Linked DNA regions of Homo sapiens. The protein of the gene in region 3 interacts with the protein of the main gene of each other region in a pairwise test. Each region holds a gene or a part of one and is shown on either strand. Other genes may lie near its edges.

The links.
Region 1: the proteins of ZHX1-C8orf76 (region 3) and ZDHHC17 interact in binary tests that used the Homo sapiens proteins (3 or more experiments, as listed by UniProt).
Region 2: the proteins of ZHX1-C8orf76 (region 3) and DLST interact in binary tests that used the Homo sapiens proteins (3 or more experiments, as listed by UniProt).
Region 4: the proteins of ZHX1-C8orf76 (region 3) and NEK7 interact in binary tests that used the Homo sapiens proteins (3 or more experiments, as listed by UniProt).

Annotation. Positions count from the first base shown.
Region 1 is NC_000012.12:76,759,194-76,767,131, reverse strand, and holds the start of ZDHHC17 (palmitoyltransferase ZDHHC17), read right to left. Parts: upstream 3,018-7,938; 5' UTR 2,896-3,017; coding exon 2,803-2,895; intron 1-2,802. UniProt on the Homo sapiens protein: Palmitoyltransferase that catalyzes the addition of palmitate onto various protein substrates and is involved in a variety of cellular processes.
Region 2 is NC_000014.9:74,877,496-74,884,935, reverse strand, and holds the start of DLST (dihydrolipoyllysine-residue succinyltransferase component of 2-oxoglutarate dehydrogenase complex, mitochondrial isoform 1 precursor), read right to left. Parts: upstream 3,021-7,440; 5' UTR 2,983-3,020; coding exon 2,920-2,982; intron 2,346-2,919; coding exon 2,312-2,345; intron 1-2,311. UniProt on the Homo sapiens protein: Dihydrolipoamide succinyltransferase (E2) component of the 2-oxoglutarate dehydrogenase complex. The 2-oxoglutarate dehydrogenase complex catalyzes the overall conversion of 2-oxoglutarate to succinyl-CoA and CO(2).
Region 3 is NC_000008.11:123,229,268-123,236,287, forward strand, and holds part of ZHX1-C8orf76 (zinc fingers and homeoboxes protein 1), read right to left. Parts: intron 2,491-7,020; coding exon 2,033-2,490; intron 1-2,032. Other genes in the region: uncharacterized protein C8orf76, read right to left, coding at 2,033-2,490.
Region 4 is NC_000001.11:198,152,501-198,160,009, reverse strand, and holds the start of NEK7 (serine/threonine-protein kinase Nek7), read right to left. Parts: upstream 3,013-7,509; 5' UTR 2,734-3,012; exon of another isoform or gene 2,604-2,733; intron 1-2,603. UniProt on the Homo sapiens protein: Protein kinase which plays an important role in mitotic cell cycle progression. Required for microtubule nucleation activity of the centrosome, robust mitotic spindle formation and cytokinesis.

The DNA.
Region 1 (7,938 bases), on a different chromosome or scaffold from region 3:
ACCTACAATGTGCCAGTTCTTGACCCTCAACATATAGCCTCACTTAATCCCTTACAGCCAAGTAAACTAGGCAGCATCTCCATTTTCTTTTCTTTTCTTTTTTTTTTTTTTTTGAGACATAATCTTGCTCTGTCACCCAGGATGGAGTACAGCTGCTCGATCATGGCTCACTGCAGCCTCAACCTTCCAGGCTCAAGCAATCCTCCCACCTCAGCATCCGATTAGCTGGGACTACAGGCGTGTACCACCATGCTCAGCTAATTTTTGTATTTTCTGTAGACACAGAGTTTTGCCATGTTGCCCAGGATGGTCTCGAACTCCTGGGCTCAAGTGATTCTCTCACCTCGGCTTCCCAAAGTGCTGGGACTACAGGTGTGAGCCTCCGAGCCCAGCCAGGATCTCCATTTTCTGATTACAACTGAAGCTTAAAGAAATTAAGCACTTGTCTCAGGTCACTTAGCTAGTTACCGAATTTCCAGAATTAGAATCCAAGTCTGTCTGACCCAAAGTCTATGTTCTCTCCAAAAAGAGGTTAAAAGTACTATTATTTCATTACTTACCAAGACAGAGAATGGGTTTCTTCCCAAAGGAGACTGAAAACACTGCTTATTTTAACAACAAAAACATATTATCTCAGTTAATCCTCGCTATAGCTTATTAACTATTATTTTTATCCATTATAAATGATGAAACTAGAACTCAGAGACGTATTCATAGCTTGCCCAAGAACACACTGCTAGGAGGCAGCAGAACTACCCCAGGTCTGCACCAGCTGCACACACTAACCACAGAAAATGCAGAAAGACCTCAGCCATGTAGTACAAGCTTAAGGTCCATCCAAAGTATTAAAATAATCAGACCTTGTGCTTCTTGGGTAAAAAGGAACGGTATATATTATGTATGCCAATTCCCACTATCAATGATGAGGAGGTTGACTTTCTAGTAATATCCTATCTATCGAATGGCAACCTGAAGATCGGTAGCTAAATTTCAAGCCTATACTGGCCATTCTACTACACCAAATAATCTGGATTTGTTGCCAGTTAAAATTATTCTTAAAGTAGCAAACAACAGTACTATATTACAAAGCAAAGGTTTATGAAGAACAGTATGCTAAAATACGTAAGATAGGCCTGGCATGGTGGCTCATGCCTGTAATCCCAGCACTTTAAGTAGCTAAGGTGAGAGGACCACTTGAGTTCAAGAGTTCAAGACCAGCCTAGACAACATAGGGAGACCTCTTCTTCTACAAATAATAAAAAAATCAGCCGGGTATGGTGGCGCGAGCCTGTGGTCACAGCTACTCAGGAGGCTGAGGGGAGAGGATCACTTGAGCCCTGGAGGTAGAGGCTGCAGTGAGCTGTCATCGTGTCAGTGCACTCCTGCCTGGGGGACAGGGAGAAACCCCGTCTCAAAAAAATAAACTGGATAAACACTTAAGTGTTTGAAATACTTTCACGAATACTTTCACAGGAACAGATGAATAGAAATCACTTAGCAACATTTTCAAGGCAACATCTGAAAACTACTTTGTCTATTTCCTGACGTATGTTAGGGCCTAAGTGAACCAAAAGAGATGTCTACAATGCCAGTTCTGAAAATGTTACCACTTTGGTCAGACAAGTGTTTAGTCTTACTGTATAGTTCTGTTTATCAGAAACCCAGAGTAGCCTTTTCTACTGAGACTGGCACAGGTATATATTCCGAAGGAACTGTCCCATGTGTTTTTGATAAACCAAAGTGACGAATGAGAGGGTGGTTGAGTGTTAACATGCAACATAAAAGGATGGTTGTCATTATTCACTTTTTAACAAAAACTAGTGGCATGGTACAAACCCAAATCCAGAAAAAAACAGAATCACTCCATTGCAAAGTAACCAGGTAGAGACTTCCATGTTTGTTCATCCTACAACACGACTGTCATCTTTTAACCTCATGAAAACTACCCGAGTTCTTCAGCAAACTGTGCCGCTGCCGCATACAGACATCACTGTGGATCACTAAAAATCAGAATGCATCAAGAATTGCTTCCAAGCCTTAACTAGCACTAGCTCAGCTACAAACTCGGAGGTAAACAAGCACAGACTGACTGACTGTGGAGCGGGGCACTGTTTACTTACATGGGAAGACACTCATGTTGTGATGGGAAACGTGTTGCACTGTCCACCCCTAGCTCCTAGAAAAACGGTACTTTGACAAGCTAATGTGAGTGTAAGTCTATTCCCAAAAGTTTTTACCTCTCTTCTTAATCGCTTAAGGACAAATGCTCAAAAAAGGACGCCCGACACAAGGTGCCCGAGGTGCTACCCATGGCATTACCTGGAAGGACATCACTATGCCCATGAAACTGTCCCCTCACAGTGGACTAAAAGGAAGCAATAGATACCGTCATTCACCCTGGCGAAGGAAAAAGAAATCAAAACCAGACGCGCTTCCACCTGGCCCCAAGAGGCTTGGAGCAAGACTAGGGTCTAAGCTGCGGTTCAAAAACCACACCAGGCCCCTCCGCCTCTGCTCTCAAACGCAGCGCGGCGACACAGCAGAACCATCAACACCTCCACCTCTGTCCTCCAGGCACAGCCAGGGACTGCGTCCCAGAGCCCGCCCCGGTCGGGCCCGCCCCGCTATCTCCTCCCCCGTTATCCGCTCGCAGCCGCGCTCAGGCCTGGATTCGCCTCCCCACCCTCCCCAACTTCGGCACGTCCCACTACCCCACACACGTCGGCCGCCGCCCTCGGCGAGTCCGGGGAAGAAAGGCTGGAGGGCCGCAGGGCAAGGAATCCACTCAGCACGGTTCCTCACCTCTGGGTGGAGAAGGGGCACACAGCCCGCTTCGGTATCGTACTCATCCGGGCCGTCCGCCATCTTGGTGTTAAATCCCTCCTCCCGCTGCATGCTGGGAGAAAGCGTTTCACCCTCCCGGGGCTCGGGCGAGGCGGAGGGCGAGCGCGGGGCGAGCGCGAGCCCCGCCGGAGGCGACGCGGGCCTCCTCCTCCTTCTTCTCCTGCCCCCGTGACGCCCCCTCTGTCCCCTCCCCCCTCGGAGGGCGCGGGTTTCTCCGCGCGTGCGCGGAAGCGCGGCCCGGCCCCAGACTGGATCGCGCTCTGCTGCACTGCGCTGGGGACGGCGGAGGGCTCTGGGCGTGGGCCCCGCGGCTCGGGGGCGGGTCCCGGCTGGAGGTAGATGTGAAGCTCTGGCTGCCCGGGGGAGGCGGCCGGGCGGTTGAGACAGTCGCTTGGGAAACCTAGCAGCTGCTCAGGAGCGAGAACAGAGCTCCGGAGCCGCACGCAGCACAAGTCTGGAGCCCCAGGCAGCCGAGGAGCCCACGCCCACGCGCTCCCACTTCCGCTCCGGGACCCCCGGGACCCCTCTTCAGGAACTCGGGCAGAGTCGTCAGCCAGCTCCAGGGAGGTTTGGGCCCGTCAGGCTTGAGTCGAGACCTGCATCATTCCTGAAGACAAAAGCAGCTTCCCTTTCCTCCACACTTGAAAAGGTCACCCGCAACCTGTCCCTCCGGGGGACGCCCGGAAAAACATGGATACAACTCGGGACTTCCTACTAGAGAACCCTTTTTTTTTTTTTTTTTTTTTTTTTTTTTTTTTTAATGAGACAGAGTTTTGCTCTTGCCGCCCAGGCGGGAGTGCAATGGCGCGATCTCAGCTCACTGCAACCTCTGCCTCCCGGTTCAAGCGATTCTCCTGCCTCAGCCTCCCGAGTAGCTGGAATTACAGGTGCACGCCACCACGCCCGGCTAATTTTTGTATTTTTAGTAGAGACGGGTTTTCACCATGTTGGCCAGGCTAGTCTCGAACTCCTGACCTTAAGCGATCCGCCCGCCTCGGCCTCCCAAAGTGCTGGGATTACAGGCTTGAGTCACCACACCCTGCCGAGAACTCTTTTTAAAATGATCCCAACCTGCTCTCAATCGTCTTGAATTAGTACCACACAAAAAATTTACGAGCTCAAAGCCCACACACCGCCATCTGCAACATTTCGATATAATCCAGGAATTCAGAACTGAAGCCACTTAAACTGAATTCGCTTAAATGCAAGGCAGATAAAATGACTAAAGCCATTTTTTAAAGGATTTTAGGGCGGTATGGGGGAGGTGCTCCCTGTAAATGGGCTGATGGGACAGTTTTAGATAGCATTTGTCTTTCCTTTTAGCTGTTAAAAATTGTAAGTCTAAACAGCTGAGAATTTAGCAGAGATCATGAAAGTTGACCTATTAGAGATCCTGGTACTTACTAATCTGTCTCCTGTTAGGCCAGAAACCACCAGGAAAAAGCCTGTACTCCGATAACGTCAGGCCAATTTGTAAATCAGGAGGGAGGGCACTCCAAAGGAAGCTTGGAATGCCACTGGAAAAGGAAAGAGGAAGCCTCCTTTGTAAGATTAGTTTCCCGCCAAAGGAGTCTGAGGAGGGTCTAAGGAGAGCCAGAATCAGTTCTGCATGGGACGCCGTTTCCGTGGCGGCATGAAGAAAAGCTGGGATTTACGAGGGATTGGATGCTGTCTTGAGGATACAGCAATTTAGTAATTAGGTACCTCCAGTAATAAAGTAGCAACACTAGTAAGAGCAGCAGTTACTCAAAGAGGGGTGAATATGGCGTGTCATAGCTACTGCACGGCTGTGGGAGAAAGAAGTTTCTCAGTTAACTTTGCTGCTGGCTTTTTCTGTATCTGTCCTCCCAGCACAACTACTTTTTCTCATTTCAGTCCGAGCTGATTTTCATTCTGTTCGTCCTGGCCCAAACTAGGAGTCATCTTTTACAGCTAGATAGTCTCAGGGTCGGCCCTTGGAGCATCGAATTGTTTTCAGTCATATGTTAACATGGACATAAGTCATTTTCACTCAAAAATCTCAATTTTTTTTTTTTTTTTGAGACTGAGTTTCACTCATGCCCAGGCTGGAGTGCAATGGCTCGATCTCGGCTCACTGCAACCACCACCTCCCAGGTTCAAGCGATTCTCCTGCCTCAGCCTCCCAAGTAGCTGGGATTACAGACATGCGCCACCATGCCCGGCTAATTTTGTATTTTTAGTAGAGACAGGGTTTCTCCATGTTGGTCAGGATGGTCTGGAACTGCCGGCCTCAGGTGATCCACCCGCGTCTGCCTCCTAAATTGCTAGGATTACAGGCGTGAGCCACCGCACCCAGCCAAAAATCTCAATTTTTTTTTTTTTTTTTTTTTTGAGACGGAGTCTTTCTTGCTCTGCGGCCCAGGCTGGAGTGCAGTGGCGAGATCTCAGGTCACTGCAACCTCTGCCTCCCAGATTCAAGCGATTCTCCTGCCTCAGCCTCCTGAGTAGCTGGGATTAAGGGCGCGCCACCATGCCCTGCTAATTTTTGTATTTTTAGTAGGGATGGGGTTTCACCATGTTGGTCAGGCTGGTCTCGAACTCCTGACCTCGTGATCCACCCACCTCGGCCTCCCAAAATCTTGGGATTACAGGCGTGAGCCACTGCGCCCGGCCAAAAATCTCAATTTTGAATCTTGCCCTTCCTTACCTTTATGTCTTGCATTGACTAGAAATAGAAGATTAGAGTAAATAAAGGACACCGACTGAAAAAGTTAAGTGGCATAAATATTAATAAAGCATTGAATGAAGTGAGAGTGTAAAGAAACTAGGCATGGAAAACTGGAGAAAATGTTTCAGGTACCCATGTATTAGGAATATTGGTACAGGTATATGATGTGGAGTATTCATAAAAGAAATGTTTAGCCTTCCCTGCGAAAATCAGTAAATCAGAGTTCACTTTAAAATCTAGAGTTCTAGTTCATCTGGCAAACAAGCCATCTTGACCTTCTTGCTCAGTCTCTACCAGGTCTATGGCCTGCTTTACTCGTTCTCATTACCTGCCTGGCTCTGTGGATATTTTTACTCCTGAGAATTCCACAATTCAAATATAAGGAAAATACTAAAAGCAGCCGAAAAGTTGGAACAACATAACCAGGGTCCATGTCTGTCTTGCTTACTGCTGGAGCACTAAAATAAATAGTTATTAAATGAAGAACTGAAGAAAGAGATCAAGAGCAGAAGCAGGCATGCTTAGGAAAACATGTTGAAGTTGAATCTTGAAGCAAACCCTTTAGATATGATCAGAGTCCATCTTGATAACTGTAGAGTTCTTATCTATAGCTCAAATTGAGAAAATATATTCAGGGGACTAAGGAGACAGCTAAGAAAGTACACTGATTGGATAGACTGGCAAAAGAATGGCATAGAATTATGGAGGAATGCAGAATAGTGGCTAAAAAAGAATAAAATTCAAAGAGAAAAATAGACCTTGTTAGAGAATAATTGTGAAATGGATTTAGAAGCAAACAGATTGGAAGGCATGGGGCATTGTTGTATAAATATAGTTTCATATGTAACTTCAGACACTACTGGAGCTAAAGACAGCATAGAGATTATCCAGATTTAGTCATTTCACAAAAAAGGAAATGATGGGGAATTTAAGAAACTCTCTTAAAGTTACAAAACTAGGTGGTAGCAGAATCATCTGGAAGCCTCCTGAATTTTCCCCATCTACTACTCTTTGCCTCTACCACGTTTCTTCTGTTGTTATTATCCTCAATGAATTATTACTTGGTCCATTTAATTTTTTTTATTGTGGGCCGGGCACGGTGGCTCACGCCTGTAATCCCAGCACTTTGGGAGGCCGAGGCGGGTGGATCACGAGGTCAGGAGATCGAGACCATCCTAGCTAACACGGTGAAACCCCATGTCTACTAAAAATACAAAAAATTAGCCGGGCATGGTGGCTGGCGCCTGTAGTCCCAGCTACTCGGGAGGCTGAGGCAGGAGAACGGCGTGAACCCGGGAGCGGCATGTGCAGTGAGCTGAGATCACGCCACTGCATTCCAGCCTGGGCGACAGAGCAAGACTCTGTCTTAAAAAAAAAAAAAAAAAAAAAAAAAAGGTTTTTTTGTGGTGAGAACACCTGACGCAAGATCTCTCTTAAATTTCTTTTTTTTTTTTTTTTTGAGACGGAGTCTTGCTCTGTCGCCCAGGCTAAAGTGCAGTGGTGCGACCTCGGCTCACTGCCAGCTCCGTCTCCCAGGTTCACGCCATTCTCCTGCCTCAGCCTCCCGAGTAGCTGGGACTACAGGCGCCCGCCACCACACCCGGCTAATTTTTTGTATTTTTAGTAGAGACAGGGTTTCACCGTTACCCAGGATGGTCTCGATCTCCTGACCTCGTGATCCACCCGCCTCGGCCTCCCAAAGTGCTGGGATTACAGGCGTGAGCCACGGTGCCCGGCCGATCTCTCTTAAATTTTTAAGTGCACAATAGGGTATTGTTAACCATAGGCACAATGGTGTACAGCAGATTTCTAGACCTTATTCGTCTTATATAACTGAAACTTTATACCCATTGAACAGCACCTCCCCATATCCTTCTACCTTTGGCCCTGGCAACCACCATTCTACTGTTTCTATCAGTTTGACTATTTTAGATACTTCACCTTTGGCCTTCAGTGAGTGGCTTATTTCACTTAGCATAATGTCCTCTGGGTTCATCCATGTTGTCACATATGGCAGAATTTCCTTCTTTTTAAAGGCTGAATAATATCCCATTGTATGTATATACCACACTTTATCCATTCATCCATCAATAGACATTTGGGTTGTTTCCATATCTTGGCTATTGTGATAATGCTGCAATGAACATGAGAGTGTGTTTTATGTCTTTGAGATCCCAATTTCAATTCTTTTGAATATATAAGCGGAAGTGAATTGCTGGATCATACGGTAGGTCTATTTTTAATTTTTTGAAGACCCATCATACCATTTTCCATAGCTGCTGAACCATTTTACATTACAGTGTACAAGGGTTCCAGTTTTTCCACATGCTTGCTAACACTTATGTTTTGTGTTTTTTTTTTCATAGTAGCCATCCTAGTAGGTGTGAAGTGATATCTCACTGTAG
Region 2 (7,440 bases), on a different chromosome or scaffold from region 3:
CTTATCATAGTTAACTGCATTTCCCCAACTGATGACTAGTAACTACAGCTGCCTCTTCTGAATTCTTTCTTATGTCTTTTTTCTTTCAGATTAACAACTCTTTCTGAACCATGGGCTCAGGACACACCAAATGAGAGCTAGCCCTCTCTTATGCCCACCTCCTCACAAGCATCCCAAGATAGGTAAGCCAGTCACCTTTATGTCCAGCAGCCAATGACTATGCAGTGCAAATTCTAAGCATAGTATGTTTTTGAACTAGAATAGATGGCGGCTCACACTGATTTTGGGAACCTGGAGTCCAATTCAGAGTTCATCCTACAGCAAATTTCATTTGTACAGTGCTTTAGGGTTTATAAAAAGCTTTCCCATAATGACCTCATTTTGATTTTACAGTCTCACAACTCTCTGAAGTGGAACGACCATCTGCCATTATTCCCATTTCATATAAGTAGGACTTTTGGAGGTTAAGCGACTAGCCCAAGGTGAATCCCTGAGCCCAAATGCAAATCCCCAAGTGCAAGGCTCTTTCCATTGTCCTGCCCACCTATGAAGTGGAGAAAATGTTTACTGACATTGTTCAGGGTTCCCACTTGAAAAACATGTTTGTTATTGAGAGTCCACTACAAGCCGACATTGTGCTAGGGGCTTTATGTTCTCATAACTCTCAGGATAAAGTCCACACTTTACGCGATCCTGTACCGTCCAGCCCACTCTATCTTTCCTGCCAGACAGGCTTCTTCCCATGTCTATCACTGGTCAAGTCCTTTCCTGTCTGAAAACCTTTGCACAAGCAATTCCCTTTGCCTGGAATACATTTTCTTGGCTCTTTTATATTCAGGTCTCAGTTAAATGTCACTTCTTCAGGGAAGCCTTTACTGACATTCCCAACCTTCCCAAGCTGGTCTACATCATCCCACCCTCTCATCACACCCTTTAATTCCTCTCTCGTAGTAACCAAAATTTATGCCCTTGTCGGAGCATAAATGTATATTTGCTCTCTCTCTCCAGCTAGCCCATAAAATCTCGAGGCTAGAGTCTATCTATACCCCTGTTACCTAGAACAGTGGCTGGCATATAGTAAGCACTCAATAAATGATCTGTTGAGTCCATGAGTAAATGAGAACATGGTGGGTTAAGAGTTCAGGATGGGTCAGGTAGACCTGGCTTATCAACAGCTGGGTGGGTGACCATGGCCAAGGCTTTTAAGCTCTCTTGTCTTGGGTTATGCATTTGTAAAATAGAGAAAATACTTTTTACTGTTTTGAGATGATTAACTAAAAAATTCACAGAAAGCACTCATATAAATGCTTGGCACAAAGAAAGCCCACAACAAGGTCAACTCATTCAACAAATACTTAGGCTAGGCATATAACAGAAAAAAAGCTATGGATGACACTTTTTTCTTTTTAACTGCTAGGATAAAATCTAAACTCCTTCAGTCTCTATACCATCTTCTATCTCTTGCCACTCTCTCCCTTAACCAAAATACTCCGGCCAAATCACCTTTTTTCCAGCTCTTAAGTTCTGCCAACCTCTTTTCTTCCTCAGGGTCTTTGTGAATGCCATTCTCTTTCTCCTGGGCTTCACTGGGTTAGCTCCGTCACATTCTGCTAGCCATAACTTTTTTTTTTTTTTTTTTTTGAGATGGAGTCTCGCTCTGTCGCCCAGGCTGGAGTGCAGTGGCGCGAACTCGGCTCACTGCAAGCTCCGCCTCCCGGCTTCACGCCATTCTCGTGCCTCAGCCTCCCGAGGAGCTGGGACTACAGGCGCCTGCCACCACGCCCGGCTAATTTTTTGTATTTTTTAGTAGAGATGGGGTTTCACCGTGTTAACCAGGATGGTCTCGATCTCCTGACCTCGTGATCCGCCCGCCTCAGCCTCCCAGAGTGCTGGGATTACAGGCGTCAGCCACCGCGCCCGGCCATGGCCATAACTTTTAAGTCACCTCCTCAAAAAGGGCTCTTCTGTCCACCCTCGTTTCCTTCTCAGCAGTTACAAAAATTTGCCTTTGTTGGCTTGTTTAGCAACTGACACTATCCAACTAGCCTAGGAGCTCCACGAGGGCAAGAACTGTACACTTCTGTATCCACTCCTGTATCCCTAGCGTCTAGCACAGTGCCTAACACAGTAGAAACTCAACTACGAGCTAAATGAATAAGCGATAGCTCGTGATTATGTAGCATTGCGTCTCACTACTCTCTGAACCAAACTGTCTTTAAATATTATGAGAAACACAGGCACCCCCGAGTTCCTCACATACTGCTCTGCCCAGGAGGAGAGCATTTTAGGTGACGGTAAGGGCAGAACTTACCAGGCAGGGAACGTCTCCCTAGAGGGCAGTTCCCCTGTTGAGAAAGAAGACATTATCGACGTCACCCAAGATGAAAAAAAAACCCAGCTTTTTCTTTTAAGTACACGCTCAAAGCTGTCCCAGTGGTGGTGACAGGTGAATCTCGTAACTCCGAAGGTAAATGCAACACACCGTGCTGGCAGACCCAATCAACACGCTGGGCCTGCCAAACTATCTCAACTTCCCAACGGGACTCATTAATACCCACTGATTTTAACAGAGCAAGACGAGACGGGCGCCGAATCCCGCCGGAGGACTCCGCCGCGCCTCCTCCCTAACTCTGAGTCAAGTATCTGGACGGGCGCGGCTCCCCAGCTCCCGCGCGGAGGGTGGGGTACAGCAGGAAACGTTCCCCGCAGGCTGCCTGGAGAAGGCAGGGGGCCGCTGGGCTCCGCAAAACGGTCCCGAGGGCAACCACGGCCCCGGGCCGCCCAGCCCGCGCGGCCTCCGCGTCCCAGTGCCCTTGGTGCCCGGCCCGGCCGGCGCGCCGCGCCCCTGCCTTCCAGGCCGCCTCTCTGCCCGCCAACAGACTCCTCACCCGTCGGGGCCCCGGCTCGGCCAGACCGTACCTTCTGGAAGGCGGAGAGCGAGCGGCTGAACGCCCGAGACACACAGCGGGATCGGGACAGCATCACGGCGGAGGAGCCGAGGGCGGGCGGACACCGGATATAGGGCCGGACAACAACCGGAAGTGGGGCGGGCCGCAGTACCCGCCGCCCGACGAGGGGTGTTCGGAGCGAACCACTGGCAGGGGGTGGGCGCACGGCGGCGCCCAGTATCCCGGCTGCAGCGCAGGAGTCCCGCTCTCTGGAGCAGGCAACCCTAAGGCGCTCTTGGGGCCCTCCGCACTGCCTGTCAGCCTGAGGTGGTTCTCCTGAAGGTGTATACGACTGTCCCGCCACCACATTGCCCCCGGGGTCAGGCCTTCCCCTACCCTTCCACAGAACTGGCTCTGAGCTTGGCGCCCTTCTCTCTTGGGACCCGAGGGCACCGCGCCGTTCCGCCTCTGTACCTTGGGAAGAGAGCAAAAGAGGGGCACGGACATTGAACTGAAACCTTGGCAGACATGCATGCCTGATCTTACACTTGTGTGGCCTGGGGCAGATGACATTGCCCCCCACCCCCAGTCTCAGGTCCCTTAACTATTAAAAAAAAAAAAAAAGGCACTTGTTACTTCCCTGTCTTCCTAACCCCGAGTCAAAGAAACAGAATCCCAGGAATTTCTAAATCCCATTGCCTTTTTACGAGTCGGATATCTTCACCAACTATAGCCTTATTTCTCAACAGCTTCTGATCTCCCCCCAACGCAAATTCCAGCCAAACTAATTGTTCCCCATACATCTTGTGCATTTTGGAAGTTGTTCGTTTGTCACCCTATCCCTAGAATATAAACTCCCAGCTGTTTTTTTAAGAAACAAGGTCATAGTTCACTGGAGCCTCGACACTCTGGGCTCAAGCGATCCCTCTGCCTCAGCCTCTGGAGTAGCTGGGACTACAGGTGCCACCATGCCAGGCTGACCTCCCCACTTTGAGTGTGCCATTCTTCCCGCTGACTTGAAGTGAAAGCATATAGCATCCCCTTCCCCTCCTTAAGTATTCAGGCCCCTTGAGTATTCACCTTTAAGGCTCACCTTCCTAATGAAAAAGATGTGCTTTAAACCTCTGGCTGAATTAGTAACACATAAATGTATGAATGAATGAATGAACCACTTGGTGCCGTTCATGATGATTTCTTTATCTGAGGCATTTTGCCTGGCCCTCAGGACCTTTATTTTTTATTTTTCTAATTAATTTATGTTTTAATATAAATTGAGACGGGGTCTCACTATGTTGCCCAGGCTGGCCTCAAATTCCATCAGGACCTTTACAGTGCCTTCACTCACCTGAACCCTGAAAGCACTGCCACTGAAATTCTGGAAGGATGGGCCAAAGTCCTAACTAGAAATAGAGAAAACAGCTCTGCCCTGCTGCTACCCACAATTAACTCCTCAGTAGCTTTCACCTGAATTATTTGAAAAGCTCCCTAAGCAGTTCTAAGCCTCCGCTCTCGCTTTCTCTAGCCCATCATCCTTTATATCTGTGTCAAAGATCCTTCTGAGCCTGGTGTGGTAGCTCACGCCTGTAATCCCATCACTTTGGGAGGATGAGGTGGGTGGATCACTTGAGATCAGGAGTTCAAGACCAGCCTGGCCAACATGGTGAAACCCCATCTCTACTAAAAATACAGAAATTAGCTGGGTGTGGTAGTGAATGCCTGTAATCCCAGCTACTCGGGAGGCTGAGGCAAGAGAATTGCTTGAACCCAGGAGATGGAGGTTGCAGTGAGCCAAGATTGCACCACTGCACTCCAGCCTGAGCAACAGAGTGAGACTTCGTCTCAAAAAAAAAAAAAAAAAGAAAGTAAAGAAAAAAAAGAAATCCTTCTGAAATGCAAACCTAATCCTGTCACTCCTCTGATTAAAGTCTTTCATTGCTTCTCCTGGTCGGATAAAGCAAGGGAGATAAAGTTTATCTCCCTTGTAGGATAAAGTACAAACTCCTCAACTTGGCCAGGCACCTGATAATCAGGCCTCTGATTATGTTCTGATTCTCTCCCCACATTCTCACAGATTGTGAGCTTTAGTCAAACCACACTACTGGCCATAGCCTTGCTGAGCTATTTGCATGGGCTGTTTCCTCCTCCTATTTGCCTAGGAACTCCTAGTCATCCTTTAAATCTCCTTCTTAATCCCTTCCTAACCCCTCTGGCAGAGTTAACAGATACATTTTCTATGCTTCCAAAGCACTGTGTCTGGGTTTCTACATTGCATTTTATTGTAATGTCCTGTTTACCTGTCTGTCTCCCATGCTGCATAGAGCAGCAGGTGGAAAGAGACCACTCTCTATTTTCCTGAATTTTCCAAACACAACACCTGGGACATCAGAGTTCCTGGGACTCTGTAGGTACTCAATAAATATTTGTGGAATGACTAAATACTTCCATGTTTACAACATTGGTGGACACAGCTGAAGAATCCAAGAACGGTAGTCAGGGGCTATGGCAATTTCTTGCCAGTGTTGCTGTTAATATTTTTCTTAGATAGCTACCCAGTCCTTTCACGGTCTTTTTTTTTTTTTTTTTTTTTTTTTTTTTTTGAGATAGAGTCTTGCTCAGCTGCCCAGGCTGGAGTGCAGTGGCATGATCTCATCTTGGCTCACTGCAACCTCTGCCACTCGGGTTCAAGTGATTCTCCTGCCCCAGCCTCCCGAGTAGCTGGGACTGCAGGTGCGTGCCACCATGCCCAGCTAATTTCTGTATTTTTAGTAGAGACGGGGTGTCAGACAGGGTGTCACTGTATTTTTAGTAGAGACAGGGTGTTGGCCAGGATGGTCTCAAAATCTTGACCTCATGATCCGCCTGCCTTGGCCTCCCAAAGTGCTGGGATTACAGGCTTTCACAGTCTTTAACAATTTTTGAGATTCTTATAGAAGGTGTAGAGGCTTCAGGCTGGGCACGGTGGCTCACGCCTGTAATCCCAGCATTTTAGGAGGCTGAGGCAGGCGGATCACGAGGTCAAGAGATCAAGACCATCCTGGTTAACACGGTGAAACCCCGTCTCTACTAAAAATACAAAAAATTAGCCGGGCCTGGTGGCGGGTGCCTGTAGTCCCAGCTACTAGGGAGGCTGAGGCAGGAGAATGGCGTGAACCCGGGAGGTAGAGCTTGCAGTGAGCTGAGATCATGTCACTGCACTCCAGCCTGGGTGACAGAGCTAGACTCCGTCTCAAAAAAAAAAAGATGTAGAGGCTTCAAGACTTCAAGCCTGGTTATAATGTGGCAAAGCACTTCTGGAGTTTTAGTGATCACCCAAGTTAATCTTAGATATTACAGTCTAAAGACACCACACACACACACACACACACACACACACACACACTCGAGCATGGTTTCATACAAAATCCCATTGAGAGGGTAAAAGTTGAAATTGATTTCCTCGAGATTCACATACGAGCTTCCATGGACTCCAAGCTGCAACCCAATAAGCTAGGGCACTCCTTCATTTAGAGCTTCCCAAGACACAGCACCATCTACTGGGGCAAGAGTTTATGAATATAAATTGTGGCAGGGCTCAAAAGAGAATTTTTTTTTTTTTTTTGAGTGGAATCTCACTCTGTTGCCAGGCTGGAGTGCAGTGGCATGATCTTGGCTCACTGCAACCTCTGCCTCCTGGGTTCAAGCGATTCTCCTGCCTCAGCCTCATGAGTAGCTGGGACTACAGGCGCCCACCACCATGCCCGGCTAATTTCTGTATTTTTAATAGAGACAGGGTTTCACCATGTCGGCCAGGATGGTCTCGATCTCTTGACGTAGTGACCCCTCCACCTTGGCCTCCCAAAGTGTTGGGCTTACAGGCGTGATCCACTGTACCCGGCCCAAAAGATAATTTTTAAAAACATTTTCATTGTAAAATACGTATTAAAAAGGATATAAAAATCTATGTGTCCAGTTTAAAAGAAAAATAATAAAAGGAATTCCCATACTTGCTGCCCAGCTGAAGGAATGGAAAAGTTCCCTGTGGTCTCCTCCATCATCACACCCAGTTAGCCACTACTATACTGAATTATATATTAACCATCCCCTTGTTTTCATTATAGCTTCAATATGCTTATGTTCTATACACATTTTTGCCTGTGTTTTTAAATTAAGAAAAAGATGTCTCCAGCAGTGGTCTGATATAGAAAAAAATAAAAAATGAAAATGAAAGATGTATTTACTTTCAAATTAAATAAGAAAAAAGGTGTGTTTTTAGAAAGGATTAAGTAGCTCATTTACCTCAAATCCCCCGGTTTTCTTATGTGTGTTCTGAACCATACATTCACATCCTTGCCTATGAGTTTATGAATATTATCGGCCAGCTAGTAGATGGGGCTATAGCCTATGCTTCCATCTTTGGGCTCCTTAAAATAGGGACTATGCCCTATATTCACTCAGTGTTACCTATGATACCTAGATTCCATCTATCTGTCTATCTCTTCATTCAGTTGTAATTCAAAATAATGGACTGATGAATACACAATGAAAATCTAGACATGTTTTTGTGTGGGTATTT
Region 3 (7,020 bases):
AATCCTGGCCCTGCACTTCACAGTTGCACCACTTTGGGAATGATTTTAATAGTTTCCTGATCCATCTAGTGGGATCCCAATAGGTATCCCAGAGTCATGAGGATTAAAATGAAATAATGTATACAAAGCATCTAGCACTCAGTCAACTGACAAGGGTTCCTACAGGGACCATTCAGCAGAGGCATCATCCCCTCTGTAAAGGCTTCCTTCTTTTGGCCACGCCAACAGCTCCCTGACGTTGGTCACAGCACTGATATACTATTTAGCACCTGTGCTGGCAGTTACAGGCTAGACATACCATTTCTCTGAGTGAGTGAGGGGCATAAGGGACTGCTTTTTAAATGATCTTTGTGATCCTAGCACCAAGCACATGTCTGGCACACGGTTGTCATTCAATGTGCCTCTGAATTAGTGACATGGTCAATCTAAACAAGCATCCACTGAATACATTTTAAAATTTGCCAAATAGCTGGGAACGGTAGCTCACTCCTGTAATCCCAGCACTCTGGGAAGCCGAGGCGGGTGGATCACCTGAGGTCAGGAGTTCGAGACCAGCCTGGCCAACATGGTGAAACCCTGTCTCTACTAAAAATACAAAAATTAGCCGGGTGTGGTGGTGCACAGCTGTAATCCCAGCTACTCAGGAGGCTGAGGCAGGGGAATTGCTTGAACCTGGAGACAGACGTTGCAGTGAGCGGAGATCACACCACTGCACTCCAGCCTGGGCAATAAGAGCAACTCCGTCTCAAAAAAAAAATAATAATAATAAAATAAAATTTGCCAAATAGATACCACTTCTCAGTAAGCCTCACTGTTAATATTTCTTGAATCCTCCTGAGTTAAAAAATCTGTATATTCTTTGGTACCATTTGAAACATGAGAGAGTCTGCTTCTTCTCTCATCATTTATAGAACTGGTCAAGTGTATTCTCCCTACCCTTCCCTCAAACTCATACTTTAAAGATAAAAAGTACTTGGTATCCCTAGGCACAAACCATGGGAATTCTCTGTAGAATGAATTAAGCATCATCTACTCCCATTATCAGCAATTCAAATACAAGAGCTAATTTTCTTCTTTAGTAGATTTCTGTGGAATATACGAACAGAAAATTCCTTCTTTAAAATATGTCTTCTCCCTTTTTCAGTGTTTTATACATTTTTATTTTCCTAATTTTTTAATGTTTTCTAATCTTAACATTCCATCTTGGACAATGACACAGGTTATATTCCTTTTTGTTTCTGAGAGTTTCATTCTGTTGCCTAGGCTGGAGTGCTGTGGTGTGATCTCAGCTCACTGCAGCCTTGGCCTCCCAGGCTCAAGCAATCATTCCATCTCAGCCTCCTGAGTAACTGGGACTACAGGCACGCACCACCATGCCTGGTCAACTCTTTTTTTTTTTTTTGAGACGGAGTCTTGCCCTGTCGCCAGGCTGGAGTGCAGTGGCACGATCTCAGCTCACTGCAACCTCCGCCTCCCGGGTTCAGCGATTCCCCTGCCTCAGCCTCCTGAGTAGCTGGGACTACAGGCACGTGCCACCATGCCCAGCTAATTTTTTGTATTTTAGTAGAGACAGGGTTTCACCATGTTGGCCAGGCTGGTCTCGATCTTCTGACCTTGTGATCCACCCACCTCACCCTCCCAAAGTGCTGGGATTACAGGCGTGAGCCACCGCGCCCGGCCCGCATAGTTAACTTTTCAAAAAAAAATTTTTGTAGAAATGGGATTTCACCATGTTGCTCAGGCTGGTCTCAAATTCGTGAGCTCAAACGATCCACCTGCCTCAGCCTCCCAAAATGCTGGGATTACAGGTATGTGCTACCACACCAGCTAACACAGGTTGTATTCTTAAACAAATGTAGTTTTGTTTCCAAGTATTACACACTAGAATGACAAACGTTCAACACAACCATAGGAAAATTTCAAAAATATATACCAAATGTCTAGCCTAGAACTTTTTGAAGCTTAAAATTAGAAAATAAAGCCTTTACTCTGAGCTGATTACCAAGCGTTGCTTAAGTGACTCTCAGCTTACCTGGTTCGTATAAAAGAGGCACATGCTTTCAGCTGAGTCTCTATCAACACTGTTTCTCTCTTTTCTGCCATACAGTTTTGGATATTTGTCAGAGCTTTCTCATTTTTCTGGCTATTACTGCTATTCGCTTCCACAGAAAATAAAGAGCTCTCAGGCAAGGTTTCAGGAAAACACAAAAGACAGTCTTTTCCTGAGTGTGGAAAGAAGGATTTGATAGTTTTGTCACTTGAGGTGAAACTGTGCTGTTTCTGAGATGACGCAAGTGCTGCTGAAAGAGCTGGCCCCAGATTCAGGTAAGCCTCTGCCAATTTGCCCCAGTTCCAAGGATTAAAAGGATGCAAAGAAATCAGTTTCTGCAGGCAGAAAATTGTTTTCTCCAAGTTCTGCAAACTTGAACAAATAGCAAGCTGGAGGTAGAGTACCGTGGTTAAATGGTCTGTGTTGGTTGCTTTATTTTCCTAAGGAGAAAAAAAAAAGGTTAAGAAGTTTAAACTTCAAAGCATTTTCCATATAAAATGAGAATGCCTAAAAAACCAAGTTGTATATGTTATAAATTAGAAGTATCTTTCAGTAGCTATACGAGTGACCTAAATATATTTCAATATATCTCATGTTTGAAACCGTAAACCCAGAGAGATATATGCTACCTAGAGAAAGAGTCACCAGCCATTCCCAAACATCCTAATGTCATAATAACTTAACAATTCCTAGATGGTGGCCTGCCAAATGTTCAGCATCAAAAACATAAATATCCATTTATTTCCAATTTTTATTATAATCTTTACTGTCTTCAGCCAGGTATCTGAAAGACCCAGCCACTTTTCTTAGATCCTGGCCTAATGATTCCATTGTAATATTCAAGGCTTTCTAAAAATCCAAATGGTAATTTCCTTGAGGATTTGAACAAACTCCACTTCCAAATTTTATTTGGCTTAGACATTTTAAACAGGATAGCCCTGAAGCTCTCCATGCTTCATGACGCATTCTAATTGAATCCAAATGCCTTCCCTGGTAACCATTACCAAGGTCAATTATAATTTTTGGCCAAAAGGGGTTGCTTAGTTTCCTTTTGATCAGAAAATCCTTTTCAAATCTCCTTAACCAGCGCCAACATCTCTTGCCTAACTTGCCATATGGCAAATGTCCTCTGGGTTAGTAAAAACAGGCCTGCTTTTTGTAAGTTGAAGTTTGCGGAGAGCAGATGGCAGACTCAAATTACCTTCAAGTTGATGTGAGGTCTAAGGAAAGCCTGGCCTGCAAGCGTCCAGATCAGGCTCCCTCACAGAACCACACTGAGCATGAAACATGAGCAAAACTACCTGGTGTACGGCCCCAGGAAACTGTACACCAGCAAGTGAAGGCCTGCGGGCAGCTCTAAATATTCCCACATTGAGTGAAAAGATAGGAGATAAAGCCCCATACGACTGATTTGCTGACACTGTACCTTCCCAAAGACAGAACACATCTCGTTTTATTGTTACTATTGTTCAGCATCTGTCCTTCCCAACAGACCATTTAGCTCCATAAGAGCTTTTGTTCAATGTAAATTCCTAGTACAGAGCACAGCTCCTCGGCCATCACAGATGTTAAATCACGTTTGAGTAATGACTTTTCTAAAGTCAAATCATGTCATTTATAAGGAAAACAACATGTATAGACTACATCTGTAACAAATGCTACCCTTCTTCTGTAACCAGTCTATAGGGCTTTATATTGTTCAAAAACTTTTTTTTTTTTTGAGACAGAGTTTCGCTCTCGTCGCCCAGGCTGGAGTGCAATGGTGCGATCTCAGCTCACCGCAACCTCTGCCTCCCTGGTTCAAGCAATCCTCCTGCCTCAGCCTCCGGAGTAGCTGGGATGACGGGTGCCTGCCACCACACCCAGCTAATTTTTGCATAAAGTAAAGACAGGGTTTTGCCATGTTGGCCAGGCTGGTCTCGAACTCCTGACCTCAAGTGATCCACCCCCTTCGGCCTCTGAAAGTGCTGGGCTTACAGGCATGAACCACTGTGCCCAGCCTCAAAAACATTTTGATATTGATAAAGCAAGTGTGTGTTAGGGTGGAGGCTGTTACTCACAAACTATGATCCTGATGACAGGGTTTTGTTTGTTTGAGATGGAGTCTCATTCTTTTGCCCAGGCTGGAGTGCAGTGGCGTGATCTCGACTCACTGCAATCTCCACCTCCCAGGTTCAAGCAGTCCTCCCACCTCAACCTCCCAAGTAGCTGGGACTACAGGTGCCCACCACCACACCAAGAGAGTTTTTAAAATTGTTATTAGGGATGCGGTTTCACCATGTTGGCCAGGCTGGTCTTGAACTCCTGACCTTCGCCCACCTCGGCCTCCCAAAGTGCTGGGAATACAGGCATGAGCCACTGCGCCCTGTCAATAGTAGGGTTTTGAGAGGTGGATTAGTAAACTCCTTCTGGAAATTAAATTCTATTTAGGCCGGGCGTGGTGGCTCACATCTGTAATCCCAGCACTTTGGGAGGCCAAGGCGGGCGGATCATGAGTTCAGGAGATCGAGACCATCCTGGCTAACATGGCGAAACCCCATCTCTACTAAAAATACAAAAAATTAGCTAGGTGTGGTGGCGGGCACCTGTAGTCCTAGCTACTCAGGAGGTTGAGGCAGGAGAATGGCATGAACCCGGGAGGCAGAGCTTGCAGTGAGCCAAGATCATGCCACTGCACTCCAGCCTGGGCAACAGAACGAGACTTCATCTCAAAAAAAAAAAAAAAATCTATTTAAATGAGTGAGTGATTTTTCCAGAATACTGCAACTCTTTCTGTAACAATAACATGATGATGACAGTTAACATTTACTGAGTGTTTACGCAGTGCCAGGCACTATTCTAAGTGTTTTCCTCATTTAATCCTCCTGACAGTGCTTTAAAATAGATTCAGTAATTTTCCTTATGTTACAGATAAGGCAACTGGGTCACAGAGAGGTTAGATAACTTGCCTGCCATAACGTGGCTGGTAAGCAGGAGAGCTACAGTCAGTTATACTAAAAGTCAAGGAATAAAAGGTACTTACGAAGAGCTGATATGGCCAGGCAAGGTGGCTCACCCCTGTAATCTCAGCACTTTGGGAAGCCGAGGTGGGCAGATCACTTGAGGTCAGGAGTTCAAGATCAGCCTGGCCAACATGGTGAAACCCTGTCTCTATTAAAAATACAAAAAAGGCTGGGCGCATTGGCTCATCCCTATAATCCTAGTACTTCGGGAGGCTGAGGCGGGTGGACTGCCTGAGCTCAGGAGTTCGAGACCAGACTGGACAACATGATGAAACCCCGTCTCTACTAAAATACAAAAAATTAGCCAGATGTGGTGGCGGGCACCTCTAATCCCAGCTACTTGGGTGGCTGAGACAGGTGAATCGCTTGAACCCAGGAGGCGGAGGTTGCAGTGAGCCAAGATCGCGCCACTGCACTCCAGCCTGGGCGACAGTGCGAGACTCCATCTAAAAAACAAAAAAACAAAAACAAAAACAAAAAAACAAAAAAAAATGTAGCCAGGTGTGGTGACACATGCCTATAATCCCAGCTACTTGGGTGGCTGAGACAGGTGAATTGCTTGAACCTGGGAGGAGGAGGCTGCAGTGAGCCAAGATCGCACCACTGCACTCCAGCCTGGGCAACAGAGCAAGACTCCATCTCAAAAAGAAAAAAAGAGCTGATGTATATGTGCGCTGGCTAAACCGACCAGACACTAGATGAGCACTGCATGTACACGATATATTGTTTGTCTCCTTAGCATCGAACCCAGAACCAGGAAAATAGTAGGACTGAAATGTTTGTTGAGTGCTGAGTGGATAAATGAAAAGGAGTCACTTACTACCAGAAAGCCATTTTCTTACCACAGTTACCACACAGGAATACCAACCACTATAAGAAAATGTTGTAATTATTTAAGAAATAAGTCCTACTATAAATTTTATCCAAAAATCATGAAAAGAGGTGAATGAATTTCAGCAGAAATTGTGAACAGAAAATGTTCGAATCTTGATGGCCACCCCGGGACTTGCTGTCTATTTTGTTCAATGTTACATACTGCGACAGGTCCCCCTACAGAATGTGAAAAGACAGTAACCACCGTCACAAAAAAACAGATATGGGCCAGAGCTAGTAACAAAAGGCGAGGGTCCTCAGGTAGAGAAGAAATTTTAAAAAACAAAACAAAACACAGCTTACCAGGAAATGAGAATGCCGTGCAGACACGCAAGGTCCGCTGAGATCATGTGTGAAGCCGACAGAAAGGGGCGAACCCCACGAGCCCGCTTTCCACCTGACAGTCCTGCCCAACAGGTTGCCAGGACGCCTGATGCACAGTTCTGAAAGTCCAGGGTTTTCTGACTGGTGTTTCTCCTGCCTAGTAACCATCCCCAGCACCGGAGACCTGGCATCGGCTGATTGGCAACAGATCCTTCTCTGAGCCACCGAAACAGATTCCCTAAGCTAGAAGGAACCAGAGATGACCCAACCCCTGCCAGGAATCCAGCTGCCACTACCTTCAACAATCAAAGAGGAGGAGGAGGAAGCACAACAGTGACGTGCAAGAAACGCCGAGCGAGCAGGACAGTAGTAAAGGCTACAGAAAGGCACCGGAAGGGCCAAGAGCACTGTTAATTTGCGGACTGGGGAAGACTAGAAATGAACACAATGAAATCCCATCAAGTTAACTGCTCATGCAAACGCTTAGGAAGTCGATTTATCTATCTTTCAGCTTAAGCACTAACCCCCAATTAGTAGAGAACAGAAAAGAAAGAACAAAACACAGCTGTTTTCCATGTTCTTAGAACAATTACTGCCAAAGTTTCCTCGAATTGCAAGAGGCTGAGGTCCTATGCAGTGAAGGCTTAAGCAAACAAAGGTTAGGGATTTCTCTTAGTTAATGAGATGGCAGATGTCAGCTCAATTGTGTGCATACGTTAGGCTGATCTGATCGCTGGGCGGTACATCCACAAAGCTCAAAATCGGTGCCAC
Region 4 (7,509 bases), on a different chromosome or scaffold from region 3:
AATACTTAAATGTTTACAGTAAGTCAGAGCCCAAAACTATCAACTGCAAGCACCAGGAAAGATTTGGGGCATGAGGTCCTTATGAGATTAAGTACTTATTTACACAAACTGTAACTGCACTGGACTTCTGGTCATTACGATGCAATTTTTTTTTAAATTTATTAATCAGGTATGTTAGCTATAGAGGCATCAAATCTCCCCTCCTCTACTAGTACACTGCCATCATACCATATGTGCTTTCCTCATTCTTTGGGTAAGTGCTGTTTTACTGGGATGGAAATGAACTCGAAATTGTCCAGACAGGAAAATATGAAAGGGGGAAAGCAATGGTGGGTGCTACATGTATTATCTAAATAAATAAACCTAAATACTAGTTCAGACTATAAAATGAGTCTGTACGCTTAGAAATAAAGTTAGTCTTGTTAAATTGGTAAGATTTTTAACCATGGAAAGATTCCCAAGAAGTTGTGAAAACGCCTAACGATTTAGATTCTGACATTTAGTGGTTTTCATTTTCAGGTAATTTCAGAGTAAAACCCGCCTCAGTCACATGGACTATATTTAGTCTGCTGACCAACTTCGCTTCTAATCTACTATAAACTTTCAGTAGTAGTTAAGTTCTAGGTGCAGCTGAATCACGAAACGGGACACCTAGGATGGCTCAGGGAAAACTGAAGCCCCCCTCCTCCTTCCTTCCTTCCTTCCTTTCTTTCTTTCTCCAGGCTGGCCCTCAGCCTGGCGCCCCTTCCGCAGACATCCCTAGAAAAAGAACTAACGCGGCCTTCTCCGAGCCCAGGGCTGGAGTAGGAAGTACCCGCCCTCCCGAACGCGAGGTCCTGGCTGCGCATTGGCTGCGAAGGCCGTCAGTACTCCGGAGGGCGGAGCCTCCCGGCACCCAGCGGAATTTCAGGCCCGCACCTCCGGGAGGGTCCTCCGGGCTCCCGGGCTCCTTCCTCCCCCTTAACACTACCCCCGCACACACACCGGCCCCGAGAAGGCAACTAGCCTCCTCAAACGGTTCCTTTGCCTTTTTATTTCGCAGGCCTTCCTCTCACCCCATACAGTTACTGCCCCTTTGACTCCTCCGAGAGGCAAAGCTTTTTCAAAGCTCTAACACCTCTCCCCTACCCCAGCAAGTTCCCCGTGCGAGACCAAATAGAGGATGCCGCTGTTCTAAGAGTGAAGCAAGCTGTGGACTGGATCTCGCCGAGGGAGAGAGAATTCCTTCCTCTGGAAATAAAATAACTGCTGAGATTTTAAGTTAGCTGTTTCAAGAGCACTTGGCCATCACCAAGTGTTACAAACCAAGAATACTCAGCGGCCATTCAACAAGAGTTGCCACAAAGCATTAGAGGGTTAACTGTATCTCCTGTTTTACTGTTCACCGTTTTCAGGGTTTGACCGGTTGTCCCAAACATACTGTAGCTTTTGAGTGCAAGGACTATGCCATTCTTCGACCACACCACCAGCAGCTCAAGGTCCTGAACAGAACATATTTATAATACACATACTCTGTACTTTAATTCTCTAATGCAACCTGACAAGACATACTGCTGTCGCCTGGAGGGAGTGTGCATAGCCTTGAAACTGTAAATTCCTTGGAGGAGGAACTAGAAACAGTGGTTCCCATTATGATGGGTACATTAGGCTCTACAAACTATGGAAATGTGGTGTTTTCAATTGCATCCTTGAGCTCAGTAACCTCAAAGGAGAATAATCATTTTATTTCTGTGTATTTCTGATTTTCAGTTCAGTCACCAGAATTGCGCAAGGACAGTAACATGTATCTTACTGTAAACTAAGTATATTTTTTAGCATTTCTCCCCAGTGAGGACTACAGCAAGGTGAGAACACGATACATCATCTCTCCGCGACCCCAGTACGCTCCCAGTGCAAGACTAAATAGAGGATGCTGCGGTTTTAGGAGTGAAGGCCTACAGTGTAACAGAGGCAACAGAAGTTCTTTAGCTCTCAAGGCAGCATCCTCTAGGTTGTGCTCGCTTCCTTACACTGTTCTGCGGTCATACGGTCTTGTCACTTTTCTCTGTTTTCCTTTGGCTACCCTTCTCTGACTTTGGCCTCAGTTTTCAATTTCTTTTCCATTGCCACCATCACCAGCAATGTTCGCTATTGCCTCGCAATCCCTCTCTCCGACATTTTGTAATCCCGAGTCTCTCCCAAGTTCATTCTCCGACAGACCTCTCACGCTCCCTGTACTTCTGAAGCCACTTCGGATTCTCCCCTATCTGCCGGCTCCCACCACCCACTCTCTCCCAGCGCACTTCACTTTCCTAAGTCGGGCTGCTGCCGAATCCTGACAGACGGACTTCACCAATCCGCGAGAGATAAATAACCGACGTCGCCAATGAGCATCCGCCGGAAGGCGGGACTTCGCTTAAGTTCCTCGGGTCCCGAAACCAAAGACCTGTTGCCGCCGCCGCCGTGGCCACGGAGTTTCTTAGTTACCGCGGCGCCCTTGGCGGCCTCGGGCCTCTAGAGCCGGGGCCAGGTATGAAGTTTCCTGCCGCCCCCTCCCACCGCTGCCAACGAACAAGACCGAAACCCCCATCCGCCTCGAGCGCAGCGCGCCCCGCCCCACCTACCCCGAGCGAGGGTATCCCGGAGGCCGCCCCGCGCGGTCCCGACCTCCCTCTCCCGGCCCGACTCCCGCAGGCGGCCCCTCCCGGCAGGAGCTGCCCGGTCCGGGCGCCTGAACCCTGGGCAGCGACTCACCAGGAAGTTGGGAGTTTTCCGTTCTCCCGCCCGCGAGAGACCTTGGGCGGGCGGGTGGCTCGGCGCGGCGCCGCCGTCGGAAAGCGCGCTGGGCCGGGGGCTGAGGCTGCGAGGCCCGGAGCCTGTCGGCCACCTCCCGCCGCGCCGCCCCGGCGGACGCTGCAGGCGCGGGGCACCCACCCTGCGCACTGCGAGGCGCGTCCGGAGTGCGAGCCTAGCGGCGGCCCATCCTCCCGCGACTCCCGATCCTCCTCCTGCTGCCGCCGCTGTCAGGAGTGTAAACATCCCGGCATCCCCGAGGAGAGGGGCGGGGCGGGCGCCGGCCCCACCCCGCGTCGTGAGTCCAGGCCGGCTGCCCGATGGAGGCTTCCCGCCTGCGTCCCCGGCGCTCCCTGGAGCTGGGGGAGCCTCGGCGGTTTCCCTACTGGAGCCGAAGTCGCTCTGGAGGAGCCCCTCCTGGCCCCTCTCTTCCGGTTGTCAGGCCTAGCGTGGTGCGGGGCACCGCGTCCGGTCCCCTGAGCCCTCTTCCCCGGCTGCTTTTTAAGAACCCAGGGTCGGCTGCTTTTTAAGAACTTGTTTTTTCTTCATTTATATGTAAGTGCCCCCACTTGCAAGCGGTGAACCGACTTACTGATGTTCCCTTCTGGACCACAGCGTTTGTGATCCCATCTTCTTTTACCAGGTGATTTAAACTACCTCTGTGTTTAATGTGGAGTGCAGGGAAATGAGAAAAAAAAAAAAAGGCGTTTTCCTGAGTCTGGCTAAGCAAACGTTGCATGAAAGTGTCCCAGCATAGAGGACAGGGGCTTCAACAACATTCCAGAAGGTAAACTCCCTGGTGTGGTACGGAGGATCTTTGAAATAAATATGTGCAAAATCACCCAGAACCCTAGTACACGAAACTGCAAAAGGAATGCTTTGACACCAGCAGCTTCACGACTTAAGTTAACAGGGCATGAACTACTCGAGGAGACGGCTAGGAGGCAGTATGGAGTCGGCCATACCTTAATTGTCGTCTCAACTCAGTGATTAATTTTGTGACCTGGCTGCAAGTTATTTAACCTCTCCAAGTCTCAGTAACTCTCTGTAAAAGGAGATTAGTTGTAATACCAACCTCTAGGACCATAGTTAGAATTAAGTGAGATAAAGCAAAGTGCTTAACCACAAAGCTTGGCATATAAGACGTGCTCATTAAATTGTTGCTGTTGTTCATAGGTCTCTCACTAGTTTAACTTCCCTGACAAAAAGATTAGAGCCAAGAATGAGTAGATTATACCTCAAACATTTAAAATGTTAAAGCCATGAAATTAAGATCTGGAAAGTTTATTTTTAAAAAGAAAAATGGCCGGGCGCAGTGGCTCATGGCTGTAAGCCTAGCATTTTGGGAGGCCAAGTGGGGGGGGGGGTGATCACCTGAGGTCAGGAGTTCGAGACCAGCCTGGCCAACATGGCGAAACCCTGTCTCTACTAAAAATACAAAAACTAGCCGAGCGTGGTGGCAGGAGTCTATAATCCCAGCTACTGGGGAGGCTGAGGCAAAAGAATCGCTTGAACCCGAGGCGGGGAGGAGGTTGCAGTGAGCAGAGATCGCGTTACTTCACTCCAGCGTGGGTGAAAGAGCGAAAATCCGTCTCAAAAAAATAAATAAATAAATGAAAACGTTCACGATCTCAAAAGGAGGCCTTGATTCATGTGGCTCAACAAATATTCATAAATGGGCTAGGCAATGTTCTAAGGAATGAGGATACAACAGCTCACCGAGATATACAGTGCCTGCTGTCATAGAGCTTATATTGTAGTCGGAAAGGCCAAAAAAAAAAAAAAGCCAATAAATACCTACTATGCCAGATGGTGAGTCATAGAAAAATAAAGCAGGGTAGGGAGACATGGGGAGGGAGGATGCTATTTTAAATATGTTTGTCTGGGAATGCCTCTCTGACATTTGAGCAGAGAACTAAGGAAGTGAGAAATTAGCCATTTGGCTACCCAGGGTTAGAATATTTTACACAGAAGGATCAGCAAATGCAAAGACCCTAAGTGGAAGTGGGCTTGGCATGTTTGAGAAATAGGCAGGAGGTCAGTGTAGGCTAGAATTCAGTGAGCGGTGGGAAAGCAGCTGACTAAATCAGAAGAGGGAGTAGGGTACAAGAAGGGTATAGTTGTAGAATCTTGTAACCTTTAAAATTTATTCTGAATGAAAAGGAGAGCCATTGGAGGAGTGACCAAATCTGATTTGGGTTGGGAGAGAAGAGCTGCACTGTGGAGAACAGATTGAGCCTAAGAGCAACTAGATGTTAGAAGACTATTGTAATGATCCAGGTAAAATACATTGATGACAGACCAGAGTGCAGGTGGTAAAAATGGTGAGATTCCATTTCTAAGAGCAAACAAGATTTGCTGATGTATTGAATGTCAGGTAAGAAAGGAGGCAAGAACAAAGCCAATGAAATTGGCATTTGAACCAGATCATTTTATCAGGTCACACCAAATCAAATCTGTCAGTCAATAGAAACAGTGTCACTGGCGTCATACACAGGCACACATTGCAGGAAAAAAATAACCAGATATCCTTAGGGTAAAGACATGTCAACCTCAGACCAGACGTATGTGTAAGGTTTTTTTCTGTTTGTTTTGGGTTTTTTTTTTGTTTTTTGTTTTTTGTTTTTTTGGAGACAGCCTCTCGCTCTGTCACCCAGGCTGGAGTGCAGTGGCGTGATCTCAGCTCACTGCAACTTCCACCTCCCAGGTTCAAGTGATTCTCCTGCCTCAACCTCTTGAGTAGCTGGGATTACAGGCATGTGCCGCCACACCTGGCTAATGTTTGTATTTTTAGTGCAGACAGGGTTTCACCATGTTGGCCAGGCTGGCCTCGAACTCATGAACTCGAATGGTCTGCCCACCTCAGCCTCCCAAAGTGGTGTGAGCCACTGTGCCCAGCCAGTTTGGTGTTTTTTGTTTTTTAATAAACTACAGATTTATCTATGACCAAATATTCCATTGGTAAAAGCAAAACACATACACCTTGAGAACACTGACTCATAGTCAAATGGATCAAAATGAGCTCATGAAGTCCTACTAGCTGAAAAGACTGTTGAGGAAGAATCCTTATCAGTGGCTATATAGTGCCCAAAGTATTGAAATACTCTGATATGTCCTATTTCTTCACCTTAAAGTACTGCTAAGCTACAGCTAAATAGTCATACAGTGTTTCAAAGATTGGAAGGTTGTCAGAACTGAATCCACCACACTTTTTCTCTTTAGCTTTTTATCAGCTTTGTGGTGGATAGGGAAAGTTGTTCCTGGCCACTGGCCTCCTGGCTGTGAGCAAATGCTAATGGAAACGCAGAAAAACCTGGCCAAAGAGGATCTGTGGTCCAGGATCTTTAGAACAGAATCTAGCTTTAACTGCTTTTCTATTCATCTCCCCACCAAGCTTGCTCCAAAAATGCTTGTTTGGCTTCATGAAACACATTAATTATAGTCCTTTATATGAAGTACTTAGTGTTTATACCTAATTACCACGCAATACATACCATTAACTATCAGATTAACTTTGCTGTAAGTGGTTTTTGATTATTACACTTGAAACCTCTCAGTTACACCAAGTTTTTATGTTTTGTTATTCATATATCTTGCTGGCCCCACAGGTAATATCAATTATTGAAACTACTCTTTCTCCCTAGGCTAACCCAGACGAGATGTTATGTACTGGGATCAGTGTAAATGCAATTTCTCTGTAAGGAGAGAAGCTTGCTAGAAAAACATTTTCTTAAGGAAAAATGATGAAGTAATACTAAAAATAATTCTCCTTTGAAAGAGAGCTTAGCCACTGGGGTAGACCAGAAAGGTCTAGCCTTCTTGACTCAAACATAGTGCTGGCAACAGGTGTATTTAAAAAGCTACTAGTGGTATTGGCAGCCACTGAATTTGGCAGCTAACTGGTGATGAGGCTTAGTCAAGCTGTTGAAATGTCTGGACTCAACTGGGCCAAGAGGAGGAAGTCAGAGTGCAGACTGCAAGCAACTCAAGGGAGATCACTTTTCTCTGGCCCTGGCTGTGGTCACTATACAAAGTCAGAAAATAAATCTTTATCTTACTTTGAAAACACCCATGAAAAATAGTAGGAAGTTACTTTTTCACCTTTAATGGCCTCTTGCATTTCATTGTTAATAGATCATGCAGATGAACTTCCCATTAAAACAATAAAATCGGCCTAAATTTCATTCTCACATCAAACCCCTAGAATTCAAAATCACAGAAAGACAACTCTCCTATGTCCCAATTATCTAGTTATGGTATTTTGAGAATACAGTTCATGGTTAAAAATAGTGGCATTACCACCAGTGGCTTTTCCTGGCTATTTTTATAGTGGTTATTAAACTGAGGAAGCATTTAAATTCACTATGTATATTTTTAATGTAGAGAAATGTAGTATTTTATATTGGTTGCAAAACAGGAAAGAAACAGTACAACTAGCAGTTTATGTCATGATTTCCTTTGGTCAGCAGAATATAACCGAACTTATGTTTTTTTATAGTATAAAAGCCAAAGGGCCAATATGCAGTAAGTAATAAGTCACAGCAATGAAGAAAATATATTCAGAAATTATTTCCCTTTTCATTCTTGTACACCTCATCCTTAATGTGGAGCCAAACCATGAAGCCATTTCGCAGAACCTAATTTCCTCAACAATGGTGGCATTTTCAGTCACGAGTGTTCACAAGCACCCCTCAATTATCTATGCTAACAGAGAGCTGTGGTGATACAATAATCAAA